Linked DNA regions of Homo sapiens. The protein of the gene in region 2 interacts with the protein of the main gene of each other region in a biochemical or structural test. Each region holds a gene or a part of one and is shown on either strand. Other genes may lie near its edges. The genes, in order: REL and MTPN.

Region 1 (12,240 bases), on a different chromosome or scaffold from region 2:
TAGCTGGAACCACAGGTATGTGTCACCACACCTGGCTAATTAAAAAAAAAAAAATCTTTTGTAGAGATGGTGTCTCATTTTGTTGTCCAGGCTGGTCTTGAACTCCTGGATCAAGCGATCCTCCCACCTTGGCATCCCAAAGTGCTAGGATTACAGGCATGAGCCACCATGCCTGGCCCCAAACATTTTTATGATAAAACAGGAAAAAAACCTGCCAACATTTCTGAGGGCTTTCCCTGTGTCAGGCACTTTGTATTAGTGATCTCAATTAGCCCTCACAAGAAGCCTGTGAGGTAGGTACCATATTACTACCCCTATTTTACAGATAAGCAAACAGGCACAGAGAGGCTAAGGGACTTGCCCAGAGTCTCACAGCTAACAATCTAGGACAAGCTAAGATTCAAATCCAGGCCTGTGTGTTTGCAAAGCCAGGGCCTTTAGCTGTGAAACACAGAGAATTCCGCAGATGTTTTTCAGAGCCTCCATTAAATATTACTGAGTATTATAAAACTTCTAGAACATAGGAAAATATTTTCATAACCTCAGTCCAAGAAGAGTTCTCTAACATTCACAAAAAACACTATCAAAGAAAATAAATCAGACTTAATTAACACTAAGTTAAAAAGCTTCACTAAGATAATGAAAAGGCAAGCCACAGACTAGGAGAGGATACTTGCAATGCATATATTTTATAACAATTCTGTGGCATCCATAGAGGTGCTCTGCTCAGATCTCCATTCTAGAGAGGATCTGCCTCAGCTTTCAAGCCAAAGCCACATATTTCCTTGGAGCCACCTACCCAATTATTAAGTACAGAGGTAGTATAAGGGCTAACTATCTCTGTGCACAGTGTTTGTGTTAGAGCTCCCCATTGGATTTACTGAGACTTCCTCAAAGATGCACTCCCATCTCATTTTCTTTCTACCAAATTTACCTTCCTTCCCCCTTTCTTTTCACCAGTGTCAGACCTGCATCTTAAGATTTTCCCTGCCTATAACTTTTTTCTTTCCCCTTTATCTTTCATAGATGTTACCCCCAATAAATCTCTTGCACTGTTAATTTCATATTGGTACTTGCTTCCCAAAGGACCCAACTGGTATACTCATATCCAGAATACATAAAGAATGTCTACAAATCAATAAGAAAAAGATAGATAATCCAATTTTTTTTTTTTTTTGAGATGTTTTCTCGCTCTGTCCCCCGGCTGGAGTGTAGTGGTGTGATCTTGGCTCACTGCAATCTCTGCCTCCCAGGTTCAAGCGATTCTCCTGCCTCAGCCTTCTGAGCAGCTGGGATTACATGTGCGTGCCATCATGCCCAGCTAATTTTTGTATTTTTAGTAGAGACGGGGTTTCACCATGTTGGTCAGACTGGTCTCGAACTACTGACCTCGTGATCTGCCCACCTCGCCCTCCCAAAGTGCTGGGATTACAAGCGTGAGCCACCGCGTCTGGCCCCATTTTCTTTTCTAATGTGCAAAAGACTCAAACAGGTACTCTGCAAAGGAGGAGAGCCAAATGACTAGTACATTTGTAAAAAGGTGTTCAGTATCTTGGCCAGGCACAGTGGCTCACGCCTGTAATCCCAGCACTTTGTTAGGCAGAGCGGGGTGGATCACGAGGTCAGGAGTTGGAGACCAGCCTAGCCAATATGGTGAAACTCCGTCTCTTCTAAAAAAAAAAAAAAAATACAACCGGGCGCAGTGGCTCACGCCTGTAAGCCCAGCACTTTGGGAGGCCAAGGCAGGCGGATCACCTGAGGTCGGGAGTTTGAGACTAGTCTGACCAACACGGAGAAACCCCGTCTCTATTAACAATACAAAAATAAAATAAAATAAGACAAAACAAAAATACACAAATTAGCCGTGCACAGTGGGCTTGCCTGTAGTCCTAGTTACTTGGGAGGCTGAGGCAGAAGAATCGCTTGAACCTGAGAGGTGAAGGTTCCAGTGAGCCGAGATTGCGCCACTGTACTCCAGCCTGGGCGATAAAGCAAGACTCCGTCTCAAAAAAAAAAAAAAAAGAAAGAAAGGAAAGGAGTTCAGCATCTCTAGTTATCAGGGAAATGTATATAAAAACCACAAGAAGGTACTGCTACACCTCCATCAGACTGGCTAAAATTAAAAGGACAATACCAAGTGTTGGTGAAACAAATGGAATTATCTTAAGTTTTGTTGTTGTTGTTGTTGTTGTTTTTTAGAAGGAGTTTCACTCTTGTTGCCCAGGCTGGAGTGGAGTGCAGTGGTGCAATCTCAGCTCACTGGAACCTCCGCCTCCCGGGTTCAAGCGATTCTCCTGCCTCACCCTCCCAAGTAGCTGGGATTACAGGCATGCGCCACCATGCCGGGCTAATTTTGTATCTTTAGTAGAGACAGGATTTCTCCATGTTGGTCAGGCTGGTCTCGAACTCCCGACCTCCGGTGATCCACCTGCCTCGGCCTCCCAAAGTGCTGGGATTACAGGCGTGAGCCACCGTGTCCGTCCGGCCTCTTAAGTTTTTTTGTGGGAGTATAATTTGGTACAACAACCCTGGAAAACTGGCAGTGTCTACTAAAACTAACATGTATTTACCATATGATCCAGCAGTACTACTCTTGGGTGTATATCAACAGAAATAAGTGCTTATAACCACCAAAAGATGGACAACTATGTGGACACAACTCAAATATTTATCAACAGTAGACTGGATAAATAAAATGTGCTATATTCATACAATGGATTTCTCCCCAATAATGAAAAAGAATGTACTACTGTCACACAGTACGGACATGACACATACAATTGTTAAGTGAGAAAGTCATACTTAAAAGAGTATACACTGTATGAATCCATTCATATCAAGTTCAAAAACAGATACAACTAATTATTGTCAAGGAGGTCAGAATATCGGGTGCCTTTTGGGGGTGGATATTGACTAGAAGCAGCTCCGAGGCAGCCTTCTGAGTGGCTGGCTAGAAGCGTTCTGTATCTTAATCCGGGTAGTGGGTTACAAAGACTCTCCTTGATGACACTCTGAAGAGGCTTCTCTGAGCCCTGTTCTCCACTAGGCTTCAGCCTTGGCCTGTAACTACTGCAGATACTGAGCACACATTATTTTATCCATGCCCCACACTAACAGACCTAAACAAATACTAGCATGCCCCTAGGATGATGACTTCGGTCACCTTTAGTTACTGCCTGGGAAAGCTCAAGAATGCCAAAATAATATATGTTTGTTCCAGTTCTATGAACCTATGGTGACCACAACGTTTGATTTTATTCTGAAACTGTTGTTAACTGTATCCATTCAATTTAATGATGGGTGTCTTGTTCTTTCAACAACAAAAAAATATCTTATGGAGCAATTTCACTTTTGACCCCTCACTCTTACTTTTTCATATTCTGCGATCACAGACTCAGAACACATCCATTTGCTAATCAGATTTGTTTCTTTCCTGGAGGATTGTGACTTTTTAACTGCTGCATCATTAAAAAATTTTTTTTCATATGTTTAAGGTAAGTTCTTTAGCATCAACAGTTCTAAAGGTTCTAAAGGTTCTCTGCCCTTTCAGATCAGTGCCCACTGTTTTATAACATATATTTGTAACATCCCCTTTAGTAGGTTGAAGTGAAATTCATAATCTACCTTACATGAATATTTTCAAATAAATAAAAATTATGTTCTAACAGCAATATCAAGAATTAAAAAGAAAGCAATTTCTAGGAAAATAATATCGACTACAGTATGTAAATGCTTGGGCATAACTACATCAAAAGACATAATGGGGCCAGATGCAGTGGCTCATGCCTATAATCCCGGCACTTTGGGAGGCTGAGGCGGGAAGATCATTTGAGCCCAGGAGTTCGAGACCAGCCTGGGCAACATAGCAAGACCCCGTCTCTTAAAAAAAAAAGACATAATGGGTTGGGTGTGGTAGCACGGGCATGTAGTCCCAGCTGTTTGGGAGGATGAGGTAGGAGGATAGCTTGAGCCCAGGAGGTGGAGGCTGCAGTGAGCTGTGTTCATGCCAGTGCATTCCAGCCTTGGTGACAGAGCAAGACCCTGTCTCCAAAAAAAAAAAAAAGACATAATGAAGTTGCCAGATGTTTGTACTTGTACCTAGAATCAGTGTGAATGCAAGTGCTGCAAATGCAGCCTGATACTACTGTGGTTTTTTGTTTGTTTGTTTTCTGAGACACAGTCTTGCTCTGTCATCCAGGCTAGAATGCAATGGTGTGATCTCGGCTCACTGCAACCTCCACCTCCCCAGTTCTAGCGATTCTCGTGCCTCAGCCTCTCAAGTAGCTGGGATTACAGGAGCACACCACTACGCCCAGCTAATTTTTGTATTTTTAGTAGCGACAGGGTTTCACCATGTTGCCCAGGCTGGTGTTGAACTCCTGACCTCAGGTAATCCACCCGCCTCGGCCTCCCAAAGTTCTGGGATTACAGGTGTGAGCCACCACAGCTGGCATACTGTGTTGTATTGATGAGCTGTCAGAGTTACAATTTTCCAACTTTTAAAACATTTTTTAATAAAAGTCTGCCCTCAATTTATACAATATTTGCATTCCTGGGAAATTCAGTATATATTAAAAACCATACAAAAATATTTTATATCTATATATGAAAGGGAGTTGTGTTCTAACCATATATTATTAAAATAGGCATTTCAACTACATGAAAGTGAATGTTTGATGAGACGTTTGAAGGTCATGAGGATGAGGGACAATTCTTGACTGTGCTCTTTCCTATCTCAAGGACCTGCTGCCTGCTGTTCCCCCAGCTGGAATGTTCTTTCCCTGAATCTCCCTGTGAATGGCCTTTTTTTTTTTTTTTTTTTTTTTCTGAGACGGAGTCTCGCTCTGTCGCCCAGGCTGGAGTGCAAGTGGCATGATCTCGGCTCACCGCAACCTCCGCCTCCCAGGTTCAAGCAATTCTCTACCTCAGCCTCCTGAGTAGCTGGGGTTACAGGCGCCCGCCACCACGCCTGGCTAATTTTTGTATTTTTAGTAGAGACGGGGTTTCACCATCTTGGCCAGACTGGTCTTGAACTCCCAACCTCGTGATCCACTTGCCTCAGCCTCCCAAAGTGCTGGGATTACAGGCATGAGCCACTGCGCCTGGCCGGCTCTTTCTTAAACTGAGGACTCAGCTCAAATGTCACCTCCTCAGAACTTTCCTCTCCCCCAGTCACTTTTCATTTTGAAATTCCTTCAGAGAACTGAAAATGTTTTCCGTCTCTTTGAAATGTATGTACATATTTTAAAAAGCTAAATAAGCCTCTTGCTAGTTTTGCGTCCTCAGAAGGTCTTTCTTGCGGGCCTCGGAGCCATCTCTTGGAAATGTGAACATCAAGGATGGTGCTCCATGTTTCTGTCTCTAGGAGGGTTTAAGCCTTGGCTCTTGGTTCCAAGATAACTTCCCATTATTTTCCTTTGGATAAAGACAATTAATAGGTATGTAATGGATTGTACGTGCCTGACCATATGAAAAGGTGAGATTTCCTTTTTTTTGGTCTTTGCACTCTCTTCAGTGGATTGCCTGTGATGTGCATCATGGTACGTTTTAGTACATATCCAATAATAAAACTGTTTCATTCTTTTGTTGTACATTGCGCATTTCGTGGAAAGAACAGTTTGGGGTTGGCAGGATATTTTAAATTATTTGCCCATATGGGTCCCCCAGTTTTGGGCACTTGTATGGCAGGCTGATATTCCCCATTACCTCTCCGTACTAATTTTAACTAGTAAGGGACAGGGGCAAGGGCATGGAGCTTTGGAGTCAGACAACCCTGGCTTTAAACTGTGCCTTTTATCAGCATTCTGAAGTACTGTATGTTGAAGTAACTTCTCTGAACCCCGAATACTTCATCTATAAAGTTAGGAATAATAAATACGTCATAGATTAAGTATGGACATTATCTGATGCATAGCAGGTACTATTCAAATGAAGGAAACGAAGTTATCCTAGGTCCTTTAATGCACTAAATGTGTGCTCCATTTCCGCCTTTCTTGGCATCTGTGTGAAATCTCAGGATATAGTGTCCACTAAACTTCAGTGCACTGCCTAATGAGACAACGAACTCCAAGTGCGGACCTTTTGAGTTTAAACGGGTTTCAGTAGGTAAAATACGTAAAGTTCACAGTACCCTCGCAATTTAGATGGAGGAAAAAAAATCAGTCGGGGGGGGGGTCCCCGTATGCAAATACAGGAATTACAGAAGAAGACAGGACCCCCGCCGCAGCACCACTTCCCCCTACAGGGCGCAACGTCCCGCCGCTGGCGCGGGGGTGGAGATTTGCATGTGCGAAGTCGGGAAGAGGGGGAACCACCTCTCGAAAACCCCGGCCGTCGCCCTCCCAGGCCGGGAGAGTCGGCCCCGCGCGCCCCCAAAAGCTCCCCAGCGGCCGGCCCTCTCTACGTCATCCGCACCCTCCCGCCCGCTCCTGAACTTTAAACCACACTCGGAAGAACAACCTGGAGGAGGGGGATTTCTCAGGAGCCAGCGGCCTTCTCACGCTGCTAGCCGTCACCTCCCGGCTCCCGCCGTTCCCTGCGCTCCCGAAGCCCACCCCAAGCTCCCGCTCCCTCGACCCCCTCCCAAGCCAGCCGCCGCAGCAGCGCCGGGGGCGTATGCGTGGGGGCCGGCGGGGAGCGTGCGCGGGGACAGGCAGGGGCGGGGCGCTGGGGGCGGTCGCGCGCGCGGCGGCCGCGAGGTCGCCCCGCCCACGCCTCCGGGTGAGGGTTGCTGCGTCGGGCCTACGTCAGCCGCGGGAAATTCCCCTCCCGCCAGGCTGCTCGCCTCTCGGCTGGGCCAGCACTCGGCTCTCCCCGCTCCGCCCCCTGCCCCTGGCTCCCGTACGGTGGACGGCGACGCTGGGTGACCCGGGGTGCAAGAATTCAGGGGTTGGGAAGGTGTGAGCCGCAAACCCAGCGGAGGGCGGGAAGAAGGAGGAGGCCTCTAGGGTGGTCGGGGGACTGGGGGCCCCGCCGGCAGAGGTCCCTCGGCCTCCTGACTGACTGACTGCGGCCGCCTCCGGCCAGGACGCTGGGAGCTGCCTGCGGGAAGGTGCGGGGAGCGGAGCCATGGCCTCCGGTGAGTGTTCATGGGGCGCGGGCCTGGGCCGGGGGAAAGGAGCTCTTCTGAAGGGGGTCCTGCCGCAGTGAGTTTAGGGAGCTCAGTTTTTGCTGGGGCGCGTTCTGTCTTTAAAATCTCATATGGTAAAATTGTCAGCTTTTAAAAAAGTTACCTGCTTCAGGGTTTGCGTGCAGAATCCAAGCCACGCTCTGTAATTCGATCCTGTTGTCATAGCAGGAACCTTAGAAATTCCCAACGACTTGATTTTAGGATTAGGGAAGTCATAAGCGAACCAAAGGAGGACGAAGAGTTCTCATTAAAAATGTATATGTATTGAAGATGGTGGTTTTATGTTTTAGAACAGGAATGAGGAACCTTCAGACCTCGGGCAAGCTCTCTCCCCCTTTTTAGTTTAATTTCATCAAATGCAAAGAGGTGATCCCCCTTGTACTGACAGTTGTACAAAATGTGTCACGGCTTTAAAAATCATCCGTGGTATTTTAACACGAATTAGAAAATCCGTGGTATTTTAAGTGTTAATGTTGCTTCGACCAAGTGTAGGCCGGGCGCGGTGGCTCATGCCTGTATTCCCAGCACTTTGGGAGGCCGAGGCGGGTGGATAACCAGAGGTCAGGAGTTTGAGACCAGCCTGGCAAACATGGTGAAACCCCGTCTCTACTAAAAATACAAAAATCAGCGGGGCGTGGTGGCGCGCGCCTGTAATCCCAGCTACTCGGGAAGCTGAGGCAGGAGAATCGCTTGAACCTGGGAGGTGGAGGTTGCAGTGAGCCGAGATCGCGCCCCTGCACTCCAGCCTGGGCGACAGAGGGAGACCCTGTCTCTATTTAAAAAAAAAAAAAATGTAGTTTTTACTGTGAGATAAAGCTCAAGGTTCCTAATCTGACGAATAGAGACGTTGAATCCCCCTTCCTCCTCGCTGGAAATAAGGGGAAAGAGGAGTTTTAGAATATCCGAGCTTTAAAATAATGAGTAGGAATGAATACAACTTTATCACTTATGTGACTATATATTTTCCCTTAATAAATGCTCGATCTCTCCCTTTGGGGGGGAATAAGTTTGTAAGAAACATTGCAGAGCAAGAAAGTCTCCTATATACACAGATGTGGTTGGGGCTGCCTGGAGCTTAAGGTTGAGGGGGACGGGAGAGCCGGGGCGGGGGGATAAATCAAGTAGCCTGGGGTCGAGTTGGTCTTTTACCAGGATTTTGGCAAGGTGAGTGGGGGACACTTTCCAGACAGAGGAAGCAGCGTGAGCAAAGGCAGGGAGGGCTAAATGCATGTTAAATGCTGTACTAAGAGAATGAAGAGGGGGCCCCGTTTATGAACTTGACTCTTATCCCCAAACTGCCTGGTCCAGTGACCCTCAGAAGTAGGCTGATGTCTAGTAGAGATGAGGAAGTAGGAAGCTTAAAGAACCTTTTTAAAAGGTTGAGCAGAACAATGCCATAGCTATTGCTGTAGGCAGAAAAGGAAATTGGGGTGTTTCACATGACATTTGATTTCAGTTTGTTTGTGGTTGTGAGAATACTAAGTGTAGTTTAAAATATTTCAACTTTCCCTTTTCCCACTTAAGTGACACCAGACTTTCAGATAATCGTGTAAATTTATGAATTCAAAGCATGTGTAGATTAGAAGTGCTAAGATGACTTCAAATATTTTGTTAATGTATTGGTTATCAGAAAGATTTTGTTTGGAAGTAATGGAGAATGCCTAGCATTATAAGTAAGTTCAGGCTCTTGGCGATTTAATCAAACTTTATTGATATATTGCATGAATTTAATACTTCTAATTTTTTCAGTTGAGAGAGGAAACAACCATTTCTATATAGAGTATTGTAAGACCCACAGGATTTTAAAATTTGATACAATTTAAATTTGTTCATTGACACTGTATTTTGTGCTGTTGTGAGGAGGAAGGATTCCCTAAAAGTAAGGAGGAAATGTTTAAAGAAATGGAAAGTTTTAAAGGTTTAGAAGTTGAAGGGTGATTAACTTTTTTTTTTTTTTTTTTGGTCTTTTCTAAGAGTTGCATTAAAATGGGACTATTTAAAATGTAACAAGTTATTTAAATTGTAATTCAGTTGTTAGAAAACTGCCAGGCCTGGAATAAAAAAAAAAAAATGTTTACAGGAATCTGTGTACTTTTCCTTAATCTGTTATAAAGACCTTAGAGAAAGAAAAAGATTCACTAATAAAATTCTAAATTCCTATTCTGTTTTGAAACAGTAATTTAACCGGAAGAGTGACCAAAAAAAAAAAAAAAAAGAAATTGCTTAGTTTTTCATTGTCTAGTTTAGATTCTGTTTGTAGTAAGGTAGTATTAAAACCTCAGAAAGTAACTTTTATTCATTACGAAGTATTTAAGAGCATTTCTTCATTTCTTACCAGATGTCATATGTAAATAGGTATATGTAGTTGAATATGTGATAGCTATAATGTAAAAGTAACATAAATCATAATCTTATAAGCAAAATTATGTAAGTTAGAATGTAGTTTAAAATCATGTATATAATATGATTCTAAATTTTGTTTAGATAAGTTAGCAGATTAATTAGGATTTCACAGCTTGTATTAAGCTGCCTTTCGTTGCTTTTTAAAAAAATTACACCTTGATCACAGTCTTTTGACATAATTAATAATAGATATAGTGAAGAAAAATGTTCCCAAACCCATCTAAGGTATGCATAGTAGGCAGTTGTTGCTTTTGTATATTTATTCTATTTAATATAAGTAAAATTAGATATTTTATGTCTGAATTTAAACCTTCTCATTGTTCCAGTAAAAAGAGCAAAATGTCTTTGTGTGGCATATAGCTCTGTTAACTAATAATTAGTGCTGTCTTTGGTAAAATGTTTTAAAATTTAGATAATTTATTTTTCTTCACATTTTTCTTAGTATGGTTCTTCTGTGTCACACAATAGGAAGGAAGTACAGAAATGAATTGTTTTTGTAAACCTCACTTCTTACCAACTATTTGTAGTGTGAATTTCAAGAGAATTGTTGTTTTTCTCGATTAAAGGGGAGAAATGGAAGTAAGTGTGAGGCAACTTAATCTTTAATAACAGAGCTGGAAGTTAGGAATGGATAGCTACAGTAAATGACTTCTTTTTTTAAGTAAAATGCCACACATGAGCATGAATGTTTCAGAAATGCAACACATGAAAAAATAGAAATAACAATGGAGTTAAATAATTAAGGTGACGTATGATAGGCACAGATAAAGGGAATGAGTTAATGTAATGACTAGGGAGGAGCCAGACAATGAATCATAATTAGGAACATCTAGGTTATGCATAGTATCTTTCTCAAATACAATTTAAGGGACTCAGAATTTCATTTTGTTCCAACTTTCTCTCATATGGGTTCTCTGAAAATGATTTTGTTTGTAGGCACATGACCCAAATATTGCATGGGATAAAATTGTTTTTCTGAAATTCATATTTATCTGGGCCTCCTCTGTTTTTATTTTTAAAACAGAGGTGATTTGGTCTTGCCATTTGTTTTTAACTTTAATACCTGTATAATCTAGGACAGCTTTTAAAATTTATTTATTTTACCCTGGCACGTGCAAGAGTTTTTTCAAGACTTACCTTTTTTCCCCCTTGGTAACAGAATCCCTATTGCCAGAATCTTTTACAGTTTTTACCTTGTAGTGCATAAATCAGTTGAATACTCATCTGAAAATTTCCTTTCTTTGATTCTTAAGGCCCAGTTGAAAGTCAGCCTGATGTATTGGAGTAATAAAGTCAGCCTGATATATTGGCATAGCCTTTGGCTGATGAGAGACCTAGTTTGAGGAAAAAAATAATAGATCTTATTTTCTTTTTCTCCAAATTGAGTAGAGGTGATATTTGGAAAAATATATATTGTTAGCTCCATTGGCTCCTTTAGGTCTCAGGCAAAGTCTGTCACCGAGGACCTTTATGAGAGACATGCAGTCTAGTCAGCTATTCTCAACTGTGGTGTTGACACACTGGTGTGACAATCATTTGTGTGATGTGTTGCAAGAGTTAAAATATTTGTGTTGTAAATTATTTACTTTTTAAATAAATGAAAGCATTTGAAGGTTATCTCTATATTGTCATTTTTTCTTGCTTGCATTTGAATAAGGTTCTTTTTTAAGTGGGAGATAAACACAAGTTCAAGTTACAAGTAGCCAGAATTGCTTTGCCTAATTTACTCACGTCCCAGTCCATATTTGTACCTGAATTTTTAGATTACTTCTCTCAATATGTGCATTGTTGCTTCCACTTCATGTTTTAAGACAATTATTCTTAATCAGGAGTGTGTTAGAATTTCTTGGAAGGCTTTTTCAGCAACGTGTATCTGGGCTTTAAAAACTATGAAGATTTCTTTATCTTCTAAACATCTCAAGTGGGGTAAGGACATGTATGTTTTGAAAAAACTACCTAGGTGATTCTGATGTACATCCCCAGTATGAACTCTGTTCTAGGGATTTCTTTGGATCTAAATACTCATTTGGCTATACCAGGATGCATTATCTTCTTAAATTAAGTTGCATTTATTTTAGATTGCAGATTATGTGCTGTATCAGTTATTACCTCCAGTTGCTTTTATGCTTGTTTTTTAAATTTGGCACTGCCATATTAGCATACCATTCATAATTCATTTTTATTATAACTTCATATAATTTTCAACTTTAGTTTTATCATGTGTAAGATGGGATAATAATTTCTATTATTTTTCAAATGGAGATTAAAGTTAAGAGGATCAAATGAGAAATGTATATAAAGGGGTCTTAAAATAATGTTATAATTACAATAATTAGCTTTTTTTTCTGTATACTTGATGCTGGTTGCTAATTCTAGCAATAAAGTGTTTGTTAATAATGTGTCTATTTCCGATAATTTATGATCCATTTAAACATTTCAATGTAATTTTTTTATTTTAAAAGCTCATGCTTTATTAGATAGGCACTATGTTTTAAAATAGCACTCTTTCTTGCCTAAGCGCAAATAAAAACATAGATATATCTTACAAACATTTTGGCTGTATTTTAGAAGTTATTCTGATGTATATTAGCCTTTTAAAATACTATTCAGAATATAGGGGTCAGTCCCAGCTTTGCATAGTGTTGCTTAAAGAAAAATACAGTAATCAATTTGTTTAGAGTCAATTTTGGAGACGTTTTGGTGCTTTT
Region 2 (11,230 bases):
GACTCTGTGATATTTGTCTTCACATCATTGATTTCAGTTTGCAATCAATATCAGTAGTACTTATGAGGCTCCATGGTCAATATTTGGGTACATGGACACAGGTAGCCTCATGGCTCTTCTAATAGTCTTTTCTAGGGCAGGATTTACTGAATCAAAGCTGTTTTCACATTTTACTGTATAATGGTTTTACGTCATCATTCAGAACAAACACAGTGAAATGTCTATTGAGGGCCAGGTGCTATTAAAGCTGTTGTTAAATTCTCTCTTCTCAATCAGCAATCATATTTTAAGGAAGTAAAAGCCTTGGAGAAAAATATCCCATGGCTGATGTGTGATGATCTGGCTGGTATCTGGGTAAGATCGTTGACCTGACACAGGACCTAGTTAGTTGGATAGGATGAGTGGCCACCCATAAAGAAAAACGGAGGGCAAAAGCCACTCCACTGTGCAGAGAAATTGGGACACTCCACTCCAGGGAACCTGGCCACCCCAAGGCTGCTGTTTCCAAGCCAGCAGCACACCCACTGCAGTGGGGAATCCATCTTCACAGCACACTGTGACAGCAAACGGGGCATTGGGCTGAGAAAGCAGCCTTTGACTTCCTCCCAGAGTGGCTCTGCCTGCCAGTCCTGCACCCCACAATGACCTGCATATAAAAAGCATGAGACTGCAGTTCATGTCATAGGTCCCAAGAATTCTTTACATGTCTCTCCCAGCCCTCCACTTTTTTTTTTTTCTGAGACAGTTTCATTCTGTTGCCCAGGCTGGAGTGCAGTGGTGCGATCTCGGCTCACTGCAACCTCTGCCTCCTGGGTTCAAGCGATTCTTGTGCCTCACCCTCCCAAGGAGCTGCGTGCGCCATCACACCCAACTAATTTTTGTATTATTGGTAGAGATGGGGTTTTCCCATGTTGGCCAGGCTGGTCTCAAACTCCTGACCTGAAGTGATCTGCCCACCTTGGCCTCCCATAGTGCTGGGATTACAGGCGTGAGCCACTGTGCCTGGCTTCCACCTTCCACTTTACTTTGGAATTCAAGGAAAGGTAAGGTAAGGGTAAGGCTTGAGTCTCAGGAATCCAGCTTTGGGGACATAAGGCGGAAAAACCTCCTAAGAATAACTAAGGGTCATTTTCACCAGTATTACACCTTTGGAACCATTGTTACATTTCACCCTGACTTCTTTTGGCCAGAATATACCTTTGAAACTCATTTTTAAAGATTTTCCTGGACATCTGGAGCTTCAAAACTTGGCCAGTTTTGCTACATTTCACATGTTAAAGGCTTCCATTTACTTTCTCTTTAGGAAGTCATGCCTGATGGCATCTATTTATAGGCTATTTGACTGTTTCTTGCTCTTATGGTCTTATTCAATGGTCCTCAAACTTCAGCACGCATCAGAATCACCTAGAGGGCTTGTTACAACATAGACTGTTGGGTCCAGCCCGAGTTTGATTCAGTAGGTCTTGGCTAGCGTCCAAAAGCTTGCATTTTTATCAAGCTTCCAGGTTATGGCAATGCTGTTGGTGTAGAGACCACATTTTGAGAATCACTGATGCTACAGAAAGAGAAAAAAAAAAATCTTATGGTGGTCTGGTATACTGTGCTGCATGAAAAGTCCTATGACAGCTATTCTCTAATGGCAAACTAATTTCCCTCTAAGCTCCTTCTTTCCACCAGGTGTGTGCCTTCCATCCACATATGCTGGTCTGTTCTTCAATCATTATATAAGGGGACTCTATTCCCTTTAAAATGTATTTAACCAGATTTAAACTTTCTTTACAGACCCCAATTCTTTTTTTCAGAGTGGGTCTCGCTTTGTCGCCTAGACTGGAGTGCAGTGGCACAAACACAGCTCACTCACTGTAGCCTCAAACCTCTCAGTCTCAAGCAATCCTCCCACCTCAGCCTCCCAAGTAGCTGGGTCTACAGGCACTTGCCACCATACCCAGCTAATTGTTTTTTAATTTTTTGTAGAGACTCAGTCTCCCTCTGTTGCCCAGGTTGGTCTCGAACTCCTGGGCTCAAGTGATCTTCCTTGCCTCAGCCTCCCAAAGTGCTGGGATTACAGGCGTGAGCCACTGCGCCGGTCCTAGATTCCAATTCTTAAAATGAGAACTTAAAAAAATTTCTGTAATCACTTCCACCTAAAGCCGTACATGGTCCCCATTTATACTTCAGTCAACAATGTGAAAGTTCTAAAATACAGCTTTTGCTGTAACTTAGTATCTGCACATATATATTTTTTTTCTATCACTAAAAGTAAACTGCAATAGTCTTCTGGTGCTAACAAGATTACAACACAATCAAACTGATTTTGTATTTAATTTTGTTCAGTTTTAAGGTTCAAAGTGATCACTCATCCTGAAAATTACACTCTAAAAAAGTGCTCGTAGTTGAGTTTGGGAAATGCAGATCTCCAAGAAATGTGGAGCAACTTAGATGAGCAATGAAAGGATCAGAGGTTTAACCACGACTCCATTTTCTTCAAGCCCCCTGAAGATCCTGACGATCTGGGATGTGCTGGCTACACCCTGCTCCCCGTCAACCAGGAGCGTTACTGAAGTTACAGTAAAACAATGTCAGGAGACTGACACAAAAGCAAATCCTTTCAAAGACTGGTAAGGTTTATTTCAATTAAATCTTTATGTTTTATTTTCCCTCCACTCATTTTTTTCTAGAAGTGGGATAAGATTAACTAAATGTTTGAGTCAATCAAGCTTCTGGTATAGTTGTAGAGATGACTACAAAAGGAAGGTGATAATAACTGAGAAAAATGCTGCTGACACATTAGCTGTAGCACAATTCAAGTTTATTCCATTTGTTCTTGCAACACAAAACTTAAAACACAGTATTATTTAGCATTCGGATGTACATGAACTAGGATACTTATGAGAAACCCAACTGCGTCAAAAGTATGACATTGTGGAAAAAATGAACTCAAATATATCAAAATGCACAAAGCACTAGTCTTCCTCCATTACCGCTTAGAAAGATATGATTGTTTCTCCATTTACAAAATAGAATCAGGACAATTTAAATTTTTTATATTTTGCATGCAAAACACTGCAATTGCTTATTTATGTAGGAGGGCACTCTCACCAGCTTCTTCTATACACAATTGAGTATACAATATTGCATGGAAGAAAACAGCAGCTCAACTGAAATATTAGAAAAAAAAATCAAACAGATACATACAGATTTAAAATCCAGTACTTGGGAAAAGATATCAATGAATAAAAGGCCTACTTGTTTGCAGCTTCCACACACTGCACCTACCTACTACCTCTCTTCCATGCTTAACTGGGTTTAGAAAGGTGAGCTATGCGTAGAAGAACTACTTGGGATATTCAAGTGCTGTATTTGAACGATAAGCCTATAGATAACAGTCTGAAGCTGCAAGGGAGACTTTGTTAGTACACTACTATAAACAGGTAAACTACCTGTTTGTACTTGATATAGTGCATATGAAATGACTGATTTAATACAAAACTACAGAACATGCAAAATTTTTTCTGAGATGTTAAGTATTACTTCAGTGGAGAACAAAACTTACTTAACCTTTCGCTAATGCATGTAGTACCAGAAAGCAAACATGGTTTTAGCTTCCTTTACTCAAAATATGAACATTAAGTGTTGTGAATTTGTCTGCCAAGTGGTTCAGAAATACATTATAAATAACCTAGTTAAAAAAAGAAACTGTGAACCATCTTGGTCAGTCTATTCTATTCTATGTTTATATGTTATTTTCTCAAGCAATCGCTTCATAATTATAGGGTTTACAAAAAGGTCGAGAAAGAAAAGCGAAGGCGAAATAGCCTCTACTGCATTACAAGCAACATCAGGATAAACTGTACAAAGAATCACATGGTTTCCATACCATGAATGTAGAAAGCAGACCAGGTTTAGGAATGATAGGACAATGCACTCTCTGCAATAGCCAACTACAACAAAACACTTTGAAAGTAAAGGTGAAAATTATATAAAGGGAAAAATTCAAGCCTTTAAATAGCATTATGTCAAGAGGTGAAAACAAAGGTATCAAAACACCCTGTTGCACTACGTTGATAGTTATAGACTGATAGAGTGCCCTCCATTTTCAATGAGGATGTCTCCATATTTTAGTTCAGTGATGTAATAAAGTACTGATTACTGATTTTTAACCCAACTCTTAATAGGCTGCATTAAGACAGCAAAATTAGCCAAATACAACAAAGTATTTAAACCACTACTTTGTGATTGTTTTCTTGGATGTAGGAAAATTACAGGGTTAGGCTAGTTGTAAGTGAAAAAGCCACAGGATTAAAAAAAGGACTCATGGGGAAAAATACACACACACACCCACACACACCTATACACCCACACACCCACATGCCAACCAACCAACCAACCAGCAACTGATCAGTAAAACTTGTTATTAACCAGGGTGACTGTTCTTGATAATAGATTAACCCTGCTGTAGAATGCTATGTTGCCTTTAAAAACCAATTCAATTATTATCCACAATCTGAGTATCAGTCCCTAACCCACCCTCCCCTAAAAATTTGAGGTACATTCAATTATTGCATGACTTGGTCTTAATATTTTTAGCAAGCTTATATGGATGGCAAGTCAAAGGAATCTTAATATTTTAAATGTAAGATATAAAATTTAAGCTTATATATTTTAATTAGCTGTACTGCTCATGAAATAAATATTTGGAAATATGTGTAAATATTTTCTGCAGGTCATAAGAACACCATTTTAGGGCACTGTATTCCAAGAACAGAGAATACATTTTGAAGTTGTCACACTTTATGTAATGCATGATTTATAAAAGCAACAAAAATATATTATGCAGGTGGGTTGGCATATGTTCAGCAGAAGCCTATCAACAACTCTGGGAAACCTGGTTACAAGTGTATTTTTGAAGGGATGGGGCTAAATTTGTCCAAACAGTAAATCTCACCCCAGTGATAGCTTTGGTGCAGTAAGTAATCAGCCTCCAAGATGGGTCTGAGAGAGGCATTTCAAAGAATGTTCCTTAATTCTCAACACATAACCAAGGTCAATCCATTCAAACAGCAAATAAAGAAAATCCATAGGTACTAAGATAACTGTTCTCTCTTCATATGATACTAACAGGCTTATGGCTATGATTCTATTTTTAAATCCCCTTTTACTACCAGCAGGAGTTTGAAAGTGTTTCAATGCTATATAAATGTATGAATCTAGAGGAGAAAAAAATATGCATACTGGAATGGTTTCTCCTTTAGACTTCCAAAACTTAAGATTTTATAAATAAAACTAGTCAGTTTTATCTAAAGAGACATGAAATCCATGTGAAAGGGGAGAGAAAATCCAAAGTTCAGTCATCCAGCAATTTAGGAGTGTGCCCCTCCTCACCTTAACTAAGCTTTCACATAAAGCTTAAAGTCACCGAGGAAAGATTTGGTCACCAACCTTATAGGCAGCGCTCTTAACTATGCCAGGAAATCCCCAGTAGAGTGCATTCTTAAGGCAGAAGGCTAGAGCTAATTGCTTATCTCAGCACCCTAAGTTTACATCACAGCAGCCACTACTGCTCAGACAGTTAGGGCTACCAAATATGTAGAGTTGGCCTTTGTAGAATCAGACCTTCAACACAATCTAATAAATTAGCTAGGGAGCTGAAAAGGTCAAATGTTACTGGTGTATTTTGTCTTTGCTCTCCCTTGGGTATAAGGTGTATATTTTATTAGAAAGGGAAGAGGCTTACTTGATCAGGAATCCCAGTAAAAGCCTGATCATGGTTCCTTTTGCCCCTCCTCCAAAACAATTTTTTTTTTCTGGTAGTCGGATTTGTTATGAATTTCTCTCTCCCCTCACCCCTCTTAAAGTATTTAGCTGAAGAAGCTGGCAGATAGAGAGTGACAGACAGACAGGCAGCAGTGTGAGGCCACAGGAGAGTCATTCTTCCGGAGTTATCAGTCCATCCATCCATCACTGGAGAAGAGCTTTGATTGCCTGGTTGTCAGTGGCTTCAAAGGCGGTCAGTCCATCTGGGCCTTTCACAGTCTTATCAGCACCCTGGAAAAGAGAGGAAAGGGCTCATTAAATGAGCCCACAACTGGGGGAAGGGAATGTAAGACTAGCTCACATGGCACAGGTTAATGTTTACATCAAGAATTAAAAATTCCTTTACTAGTGGAGTCTATTCTACTGCAGAAAAACAAACAAGTTGGCAACATTATGGATTAATTATAAAAATGCCACATTATTTTTCAGGCACTAAGAATTGTAACCCAGGCAATCACTGGCTTTTATTTATACTATCATGGATGAGATGATTAGGAAGAGCACGTTGAGCAAGTTAGATATATTTATCTAATTAGGCTTTAAAAATAATATCCCTATGTGCAGTATGAAACGGGGAAAAAGTAAATCACTTTGCTAAAGTATTCCTGTGACAAATTATTTTTTTCTTATTTGAAACACTTTTTGTAGAGTGCATTCAGTATTATATACATCAAGAACAAATACTGTATTCGTCATTTTACTTGTAAAAACTTCGCAGTAAATGCCTGAGATGCGGACTATAAGAAGGTTCCCTGCGATATTGTAGGGAAATATTCAGTGCAGACACCAGACTGCTCTGAACGCTTAACTTGGAGAGTGCTGCCTTGGAACATTTTATCTGCAACGCGGCATTCTGGTTTTGAGAGTGTGTATGTGCCCTTTTGTGCCTGTATGTTGTTTCATCTGTCTACCCTTTCTGGATGAAAGCTCCATGGGAGCAGTAATTCACCACTGTACTCCAGCACTTGGAAAAGTGCCTAGGTGCATGGTAGGTTAATCTGCTCCCAAACCAGGTCTGATTCTTAACTCCCAGAGACAACATCCTACCATCTGAGGGTTCTGTTTACCAGCTCTAGCTCCAGCCAGTATTTATTCACCACACATTCTCTAGAGTCCTGACCCACTCCCCTTGCCAAATCTCACACATTCTTCTGCTTGTTCCTGACACCTACAGAATTGTTTAAACTTGGCACATATGGTCCTTTAGAGGCTAACGCTGGTCAGCTTTACCAGTCTCTTCTCCAGTTAACCGCTCCATGCTCTAATCCTACAGAATTTCTCACCAGTTCCTGCTGTGTTTCATGCCTTTATCCATGCGGGCTCTAGATGGGATGCCTTATCCTCTTCTCTGGCAAATCCACCCATTCACTCAACAAATATTTACTGAATGTTTAATATGCGCATACTGTGTAAAGGACTGGAGAATCAAAGAAAAATAAGACAAGAGTCTGCCAGTCTGGCTGGTATGAGAGTCAGACAACTCAGCCAACACAACACTATGGGAAGAGAACAGTAACAGGGATGAGTGGCCCATAATCAGAACAGGATGTGGCAGGAGGGCGTTTTAAGGGAGAAAGTCTTCCGGGATGAGGTAAAATGCCTGAGCTGAGTCTTGACAAGGAAGTACAGGCTGATTAGGTAAACCAGGGAGGAGATGACATTTTAGGAAGTGTTAAATGATCACAAAGTCCTCCTCAGTATTATTATAAAAGTCTCTATTTCCTCATTTTCTAAATGAATTTAACTGCTTCATGGAAGACATGGAATTCAGGGTCAAGTGGGAGAGACGTCAGTGCGTGAGAACTTCAGTGCTGTGAGTCCCGCCACAATGGTTAAGGGATAACTGTATTCAAAAAAGTTATTTCTTATTCATTTTGATGGCTACTTTTATGACTAGCATTATCAACTATAATTCTGCATTAACAGTTACATATTATAGTGAACTTCTGTTGCTTTTTAGCTCTCAGAGTTTATTTCCCTCCATTTGATGGCAGCACCCTAATTTCATCTTGGGGAATCATTTGTCCCCTCTTGCTTTTTAAAATTTTAATTCTTAATTATTATGGGTACATAACAGTTATATATATAGATGGGGTATGTGATGTTTTGATACAGGCATACAATATGTAATGATCAAATCAGGGCCCTTATCATTTCTTTGTGTTAGAACATTCTAATTCTGCTCTTTTACTTATTTTAAATTACACAGTAAATTGTTAACAAATGTGAACAGTAAGTTGTTCACAACAGTTAACAATTTACTGTAGCCCTGTTGTGCTACCAAATACTAGATCATATTCATTGTAACTGTATTTCTGTTCCCCTTAACCATTCCCAGGGTCCTCTATAGTCCTGGGATTATAAAACCGAGATGCTTATTTTCCTCACCAAATTTCAAAGATTTGAAAGCGGAATACTCTCTCCTAGATTTTGAATCCTGATTGAAGAGATCAAAAGAGAATATAAGAAGTTAGAACTCATTTCTGGGGCACCACCTCGATGAAAAAGCTGACAAGTTCCTGCTACCCAGAGCCCTGCAGTTGCCACAGCTCAATCTCTTCTCAACCTGGTGCCCAGCTTTTCCTGTTGATTCTGCAACTAGGCCAGTCATCTTTTCAAAAATTCCTTTTCTGCTTGTTGACTATCTCTGCTATTTGCAACCAGAAGTATTTAGATAAAATATTTTTAAAATGTATATGTCACCTTTTTCCTAATTATGATGCAAACTTATCGCAGAAAACTCGTAATTCTATACATTAGATACAACTAATGTTAACATCTTAGTGTTTCCTTCTACTCTTCTATTCTAAATATATATACATATATACTTCTTTAAAAATAGTTGAGTAATTAGAAGTAGAGTGACTATATTTATATCAGACAAAAGAAGCCTTAAGATAAAAAAAATTACTAGAGACAAAGAGGGACATTTCATAATGATAAAAGGTTCACAATTCAAACATGTAATTTAAAAATTTCATTTGTAATACCATCAAAAGGGATACAATACTGAAGAATAAATTTAGGGCCAGGCGCAGTGGCTCACAGCTGTAATCCCAGCACTCTGGGAGGCCTAGGCAGGTGGATCACCTGAGGCCAGGAGTTAGAGACCAGCCCGGCCAACATGGCAAAACCCCATCTCTACTAAAAACATAAAAATTAGCCTCATGTGATGGCACACGCCTGTAATCCTAGCTACTTCGGAGGCTAAGGCATGAGAATCACTTGAACCCAGGAGGCGGAGGTTGCAGTGAGCTGAGATGAGATCGTGATGCTGCACTCCAGCTTGGGCAACTGAGCAAGACTCACTCAGCCTCAAAAAAAAAAAAAAAAAAAAAAAAGATGAACCAGTTTTGAAGTAACTGAAGAATTTAAGTATATTTGGCCCTATCCCTTCCTTGAAGAAACCATTTTTTAATTGTTTTTAATTATTTGCATAGCTTTAAATAATATACTCATGCTGATATTTGAGCTATAACTTTAGATTTTATCTTTCGACTTCCTGCTACATACATAGGCCTTTAGCTCACCACTACCACCCTTCCCCAGACCTTCTCAATTTCTTATACTTAAAATATTTTGTTCTTTATAAATGTAAACGATATTTATTTAAACCTGTATTTCTTGTTCCATCAATTCTCATGAAGTAATTTTATAAGATACTTTCTCAACCTTCCCATCACTCCCTCCACCTCCTAATTTGCCAGCTTTTCTATTTTGTCAAGATTAACTTTTATATTCTGGTCTGTAAAAACTGTGTTTTTATCAATTCTTATAGTTAAGTAAGTGATGTTCAAATTATTTCTAGGTAAATACTGCTCTTGGTGGCACCTAGCAGACTAATATGACTAGTCATTTTCTCTCTGTTGTTCCAATATTGCAACCCTATGCAATCCTCACAAATGACTGAATCAGAAGGTAACACTTACAGTAACAGCCTGAGTTTTCCCCAGTCCCACAAACTAATGAATTAAAATGGTTTGGCTCTGTGTCCCCACCCAAATCTCAAGTCAAACTATAATTCCCAATGTTGGAGGTGGGGCCTGGTGGGAGGTGACTGGATCACGGGTGCTAATGGTTTGGCACCACCCCTCACCCCCTTGTGCTGTCTTGTGATAGAGTAGAGTTCTCATGAGACCTGGTTGCTTAAAAGTGTGTAGCACCTCCCCCTTCACACTCTCTCCTGCCACCATGAGAAGATATGACTGCTTCCCCTTTGCCTCCTGCCAGGATTGTTAAGTTTCCTGAGGCCTCCCCAGCCATGCCTCTTGTACAGCGTGAGGAACTGTGAGTGAATTAAACCTCTTCTCTTCATAAATCACTCAGTCTCAGGTAGTTCTCTATAGCAGTGTAAGAACAGACTAATTCATGAACCAATCTGTTACTCTTAAGGTAAATTGCTACCACAGAGAGAAACTAAAACACAATGAATTGAACTAAGTTAATTTATTTCTTGCTTATAAAACAGTCTTAGTGCCAAGCACATAGGTTGGCAGGGTGGCTCTGTCCTTAAGGTCATCTAAGGACCTAAGTTCCTTCCATTCTGTTGATCTCCCATGGGTACACTCCTCACCCATATGTCTGGAGCTGGCTCGTCCTACAGCTGCTTCTAGCCTTCTAGATAAGGAGAAAAGTCCACAGCAAGTGGCTTCATATTTTGTAATGATTTGGAAGTGACACACATCATTTGTGCATATCCCAGTAGCCTAAAAGTTAGTTAGACACACAGCCATAATTACTGCAAGGAAAGCTGAGACACAAGGATTACCTAGGCTGCCATGTGGACAACTACAACCTAGGGTTTTCTTTCTAAAGCACAAGGAAAAATCAGACATGACAGACAATTTGCAACCTGACCTATACTGTTCTGAAAACACTTTGAAATAAGTCACTAACGTCCTGTAAATGCCAAGTCTAGTCAACATATATAGTATCTGAACAGTGATATTCCTAACTCATTATGGTCCTAACTCTCAAGACAGTATTATCTCCACATTCTCCTGTCTAGCCTGCCTCTCCCTCCCACACCAACTCCTTCTACTCTCCCCTGCCTTCCTTTACTTTCTCTGGCTGTCCTTTATACAGGATTCAGGTCTTTAACACTCTTTATAACTTGCTCAACGTGCTCTTCCTAATCATCTCATCCATGTCCAACCTTTATTGTCCTCATTCTGAGGACTGGCTTTCAGACTTACCTACTTTAAGTTCCATAAATACCTTGAATTCAACCTCTCCCAAAATGAATCTGTAATCTTTTCCTATAAACCTTGCTCCTTTTTCAATATTCTCCAACAAGGTGAAGAACACTACCATCTTCCAGAAGATGTGGAGACAGTATGCAGTTCTTGTTTACTTAAGTCTTCAGACCATACTATTAAGATTTCCCATCTGTCCTTGGTTCTCCATTGCTACCATC

The links.
Region 1: the proteins of MTPN (region 2) and REL form a complex in vitro, tested with the Homo sapiens proteins (one study listed by BioGRID).

What each region holds. Positions count from the first base shown.
Region 1 is NC_000002.12:60,874,773-60,887,012, forward strand, and holds the start of REL (proto-oncogene c-Rel), read left to right. Parts: upstream 1-6,801; 5' UTR 6,802-7,068; coding exon 7,069-7,078; intron 7,079-12,240. UniProt on the Homo sapiens protein: Proto-oncogene that may play a role in differentiation and lymphopoiesis.
Region 2 is NC_000007.14:135,923,968-135,935,197, forward strand, and holds the end of MTPN (myotrophin), read right to left. Parts: intron 6,046-11,230; coding exon 5,959-6,045; 3' UTR 2,793-5,958; downstream 1-2,792. UniProt on the Homo sapiens protein: Promotes dimerization of NF-kappa-B subunits and regulates NF-kappa-B transcription factor activity. Plays a role in the regulation of the growth of actin filaments.